2 separate regions of the Homo sapiens genome follow, and region 1 is linked to region 2. Evidence: fine-mapped expression QTL. A gene starts in region 2. The other region holds a variant in brackets. All regions are shown on one strand. Distances are between the middles of the regions. Region 1 overlaps LOC105372437 (a long non-coding RNA gene). Region 2 holds the start of NR1H2 (nuclear receptor subfamily 1 group H member 2).

Evidence for each region.
Region 1: its variant is fine-mapped to the expression of NR1H2 in prefrontal cortex (ROSMAP, PIP 0.95).

The regions. Positions count from the first base shown.
Region 1 is chr19:50,344,393-50,347,300 of GRCh38, forward strand. All of the region lies in intron 2 of LOC105372437 (a long non-coding RNA gene), which reads left to right. It also overlaps the pseudogene NAPSB. Among named protein-coding and RNA genes, the nearest start is that of KCNC3, 16 kb to the left of the region's middle. RefSeq lists an enhancer at 247-296. The variant A/ATTT (reference allele first, on the strand shown) is at 1,632.
Region 2 is chr19:50,374,810-50,377,655 of GRCh38, forward strand. NR1H2 (nuclear receptor subfamily 1 group H member 2) reads left to right here and starts at 1,648. Exons shown (of 10, transcript NM_007121.7): 1 at 1,648-1,767; 2 at 1,910-2,017; 3 at 2,778-2,839. The coding sequence starts at 2,797. RefSeq lists an enhancer at 1,557-2,368 and a silencer at 2,189-2,278.

The sequences.
Region 1 (2,908 bases), 30 kb before region 2:
GGTGAGCCAAGATCGTGCCATTGCACTCCAGCCTGGGCAACAAGAGTGAAACTCTGTCTCAAAAAAAATAAATAAATAAAAGGGAGCTCTGATCTTAGGAGATGTCAGAGTAGAGCCCTCGGGGTGAGAGCCCACTTTAGAGATCTGGAAAGCCAAGAAAGAAGAGTCAAGGATCCTGGGTGCCAGGTTTGGGAATCACTGAACCAGGAGCCCCAGACTTAAAGGGCAAAAAGCAGAGAATCCCTCCCAGGTTTGGGGGTGGCAAATGGGGTCACCATACCGGATCAGTGTGGCCCCAGCAGGCTCCACATTCAGCAGAGGCAGCAGCAGCAGCAAGGGTAGCAGCAGCAGTGGTGGAGACATTGCTGGGGAGCCGGGTGTGAACCCAGGCTTCCTAGTTTTCTTTCCCCTGTGACTCCACCCTGTTTATGCCCCACCTCCCGGTTTAGGAGGTGACCAGAACACGAGGTCTCTCAGCAGGTGACACAGGGGGACAAGGATGTTTTTGAAGATTTGTGCAGAGTATTTGTGTAGTGTCAACAAAAGTTGTATCCTGTGTCCTTAGTGCTCCTCATTCCCTACTTGGGGGGTGGTGGTCGTGGGGTGTCCTCTGCTGGGACTGCCTCCCACCCCCCATCCTTTAGCCTCTGTCACTTTTACTTCTCACTTTCACATCACTTTTCTGAGACTCATTAACCACAGTGTTTCCTTGGCCAAGTGGGAGGGACCAGCAGGTGTCTGTGAAGGGCCTGGGGAAGGGAGAGAGGAACTGATTATAAGCCTGCCCTCCCATATGAAGTGGGACTGCCTGCGTCTGAGGACCCAGACTCTTATTTGTAGGTGAAGTATGTTTCTTGTAAGCAACAAAACATTGGGTCTTCTTTTTCATCCATTCATCCGTTCTATATCTTTTTATTCGAGAGTTTAGTCCATTTACATTCAATGTTGTTCTTGATAAGGACGTCCTCCTGACATTTTGTTACTTGTTTTCTGGTTGTTTTGTAGTATTCTCTTCTTTCTGTCCTTCTTTCATGTTATTTATTTATTTATTTATTCATTTATTTTTGAGACAGAATCTCATTGTCGCCCAGGCTGGAGTGCCGTGGTGCAATCTCGGCTCACTGCAACCTCTGCCTCCTGGATTCAAGCGATTCTCGCCTCAGCCTCCCGAGTAGCTGGGACTACAGGCGCGTGCCACTGCACCTGGCTAATTTATGTATTTTTAATAGAGATTTGGTTTCATGATGTTGGCCATACTGATCTCAAACTCCTGACTTCAGGTGATCCACCCGCCTCAGCCTCCCAGAGTGCTGGGATTACACATGTGAGCCACCACACCTGGCCTCTGTTTTCCTTTTAGAGAAGATAATTTTCCTTGGTCATATGATTTAATTTTTTGCTTTTTTTTTTGTATCTGTTGTATGTTTTTTGATTTGAGGTTACCATGAGGCTTGCAAATATTGTCTTTTTTTTTTTTTTTTTTTGAGATGGAATCTCGCTCTGTTACCCAAGCTGGAGTGCAGTGGCTCGATCTCGGCTCACTGCAAGCTCTGCCTCCTGGGTTGACGCCATTCTCCTGCCTCAGCCTCCAGGGTAGCTGGGACTACAGGTGCCTGCCACCACACCTGGCT[A/ATTT]TTTTTTTTTTTTTTTTTTTGTATATTTAGTAGAGACGAGGTTTCACCGTGTTAGCCAGGATGGCCTCGATCTCCTGACCTCATGATCCGCCTGCCTTGGCCTCCCAAAGTGCTGGGGTTACAGGCGTAAGCCACTGTGCCCTGCCATAAATACTATCTTATAACCCATTATTTTAAGCTGACAACATAAACTTAACACTGTTTGCATAAACAAACCAACAAACCAACAAACAATAAGAAAATTAGTAAAAACTCTACACCTTCACTTTGTCCCCAACTTTTTAACTTTTTGTTGTTTGTATTTATATCTTATTGTACTGTCTATGTCTTGAAGCGTTGTTGTAGTTATTATTTTTGATTGGTTCATCCTTTAGTTTTTCTACTTAAGAGTTGTTCACACACCATAGTTATACTGTTACAATACACCATGTTTTTCTGTGTGCTTACTATTAGCAGTGAGTTTTGTACCTTCAGATGATTTTTTTTTTTTTTTTTGAGACGGAGTCTTGCTCTGTCACCCAGGCTGGAGTGCAGTGGTGCGATCTCAGCTCACTGCAAGCTCCACCTCCCGGGTTCATGCCATTTTCCTGCCTCAGCCTCCCGAGTAGCTGGGACTACAGGCACCCACCACCACATCCGGCTAATTTTTTTGTATTTTTAGTAGAGACGGGGTTTCACCGTGTTAGCCAGGATGGTCTCGATCTCCTGACCTCGTGATCCACATGTCTCTGCCTTCCAAAGTGCTGGGATTACACACGTGAGCCACCGCGTCTGGCCCAGATGATTTTTTATCACTCATTAACATGCTTTTCTTTCTGACTGAAGTACTCCCTTTAGCATTTCTTGTAGGACAGATCCGGTGTTGATGAAATTCCTCAGCTTTGTTTGTTCTGGGAGAGTCTTTATTTCTCCTTCATGCTTGAAGAATATTTTCACTGGATATGCTATTCTAGTGTAGCAGGACAAGCTGTGGAGAAAACCCCACAGACACCGAGATAGTGAAGGAAGTAGCTTTTAATCAGCTGGAAGCATCAGCAGACTAGCATCTTAAAATTCAAGCTTGTTGAGTGCACAATTTCTGTCGCTTTTAAGGGTTCACAACACTAAAGATTTTACATGAAAGGACCGTGATTGATTGAGCAATCTAGGGGGTATGTGACAGGGGCTGCATGCACCAGTAATCAGAGCAAAGCAGAACAGAACGAGAAGTTTCACAATGTCTTTCCATACAATGTCTGGAATTTATGGATAATCGGTTGCTAGGTCATGGGTTGAAT
Region 2 (2,846 bases):
CCTCATGGCTCATTATACACTAATTATAACGCATTAGCATGCTAAAAGTCACACCCACCAGCACGATGACAGCTTACAAATGCCATGGCAACGTCAGGAAGTTCCCCTATATGGTCTAAACGGGGGAGGAACCCTCAATTCTGAGAATTGCCTACCCTTTTCCTGGAAAACTCATGAATAATCCACCCGTTGTTTAGTATATAATCAAGAAATAACTATAAGTATAATCACAGTGAACAGCCCAAGCCGCTGCTCTACCTGGAGTAGCCATTCTTTTATTCCTTTATTTTTATTGCATTTTATTTTTGAGACGGAGTTTCGCTCTTGTTACCCAGACTGGAGTGCAATGGCGCAATCTCGGCTCACCGCAACCTCGGCTCACCGCAACCTCCGCCTCCTGGGTTCAAGCGATTCTCCTGCCTCAGCCTCTCCCGAGTAGCTGGGATTACAGGCGCCCGCCACCATGCCTGGCTAATTTTGTATTTTTAGTAGAGACGGAGTTTCTCCATGTTGGTCAGGCTGATCTCAAACTCCCGACCTCAGGTGATCTGCCCACCTCGGCCTCCCAAAGTGCTGGGATTACAGGCGTGAGCCACCGCGCCCGGTCCGAGACTGAGCTTTTTTAATTCTTCCAATCACCAAGTTATTGAAACCATTTTTGCAAAATTTTAACAATGAGAAAATTCTGACATCTCAAATCTGGCCAGGCACAGCGGCTCACGCCTGTAATCCCAACACTCTGGAAGGCCGAGGTAGGTGGATTGCCTGAGGTCAGGAGTTCGATACCAGCCTGGCAAACATGGTGAAACCCCATCTCTACTAAAAATAGAAAAATTAGCCGGCCGTGGTGGTGGGCACCTGTAATCCCAGCTACAAGGGAGGCTGAGGCAGGAGAATCGCTTGAACCCAGGAGGCGGAAGTTGCAGTTAGCTGAGATCGCGGCACTGCACTCCAGCCTGGGCAACAGAGTGAGACTCCATCTCAAAAAAAAAAAAGTAAAAATAAGCCCGGTGCCGCAGCTCACGCCTGTAATCCCAGCACTTTGGGAGGCCGAGGCAGGCGGATCATTTGAAGTCAGGAGTTCGAGACCAGCCTCGCCAACATGGCGAAACCCTGTCTCTACTAAAAATACAAAAAAATGAGCCGGGCGTGGTGGCACATGCCTGTAATCCCAGTTACTTGGGAGGGTGAGGCAAGAGAATCTCTTGAACCCAGGACGCAGAGGCTGGAGTGAGCTGAGATCACACCACTGCACTCCAGTCTGGGGTGACAGAGTGAGACCTCTCCAAATAAATAAATAAAAATAAATAAAACTAACAAGCAGCACGACTCCAAAATCAGAAAACTTGTAACGACCAAAAAAGTGCAAACGTGCCTTAAATCAGTCATGTGCGACAAGCAGCTATAGCTAGGGTTTGGCCGCAGGCTCAGAGAAGCGCATGAATGAGCTAAAGCCACAAAGCGCGGGGCTGGAGGTTTGGCTCCCAAGAAGCGAGGAAATGGGTTCGGAACTCTTCTGCCAAGTCCCAGTAGATCTACCCGGTAAACTTCCGGTGAGTTTCCAACTTCCGTGCGGGGCAGCAGCTTCGGCTGGTCCTAAGCGGACCGGAAGTTCGTCAAGTTTCACGCTCCGCCCCTCTTCCGGACGTGACGCAAGGGCGGGGTTGCCGGAAGAAGTGGCGAAGTTACTTTTGAGGGTATTTGAGTAGCGGCGGTGTGTCAGGGGCTAAAGAGGAGGACGAAGAAAAGCAGAGCAAGGGAACCCAGGTAGGTGCACCCGAGAGTGGGGAGACGCAGGAGGAGCCCCGAACCCGGGGCTTCTCGGCGCTCCCCGCGTACTCCGCTCTGCCCCCTTCTCTCCTTCCATTTCCTCCCCTCGGTAATTCGCGCCTCCCGCGGCTGTTTCCAGGGCAACAGGAGTAGTTCACTCCGCGAGAGGCCGTCCACGAGACCCCCGCGCGCAGCCATGAGCCCCGCCCCCCGCTGTTGCTTGGAGAGGGGCGGGACCTGGAGAGAGGTGCGAGGGCGGAGCATGAATGGAGGAGGCGGGGCGGGGCATGATGGGAGGTGATGGGGCGGGACCTGCAGCGCGGTGCGGGGGCGGGGCATGAAGGGAGGAGGCGGGGCTGGGGGCGGGGCATGATGGGAGGAGATGTGGCGGGGCCTGGAGCGAGGTTGTGGGGGTGCAGTAGGAAGGGAGGAGGCGGGGCGGGGGCGGGGCATGATGGGAGGGGATGGGGACCTGGAGCGAGGTTGTGGGGGTGAGGCTTGGAGGGAGGGATGCATATGGGGCGGGGCAAGGTGTTGGGAGGCCCATGATGGGGGCTTTAGGGGCTGAACCTGGAAGGTTGAGGGCGGAGCATAGTAGGAGGAGGTGGGGTCAGAATGAGAAATAGGGATGCTTGGGGCAGAAGTGAGGTAGAGTCTTAAGAAGAGGAGGTGGGGGGAAACTACATGGCATGGAGGCCGTGAAGGCAGAGCATGATTAAAGGAGAATGGGCCCTACCTAGAAAAAGCAGGTGGATTGGACCTGAGGGGGCGGGGCCTACAGCAGGGGCGGGGCTTAAGACCAAGCTGAAGGCTGGCGTGGAACAGAAGGGGGCAGGTCTTGTTAGAAGGATGGGGAGGGTTTGTAGGCTGGCAGGAACCAGGGTTGTGGCTGAGAGTAGGGTCTTTGGAGAGATGGAAAAAAAAGGGAAAGCCCTGTCAGGACCTGTAACTGACCTAACCTAACCCTTCTTAGCCCCACAAGGCTCTCAATCCCCTGTATTCTACAGGCTGCTCCGTGACCCCACCATGTCCTCTCCTACCACGAGTTCCCTGGATACCCCCCTGCCTGGTGAGTG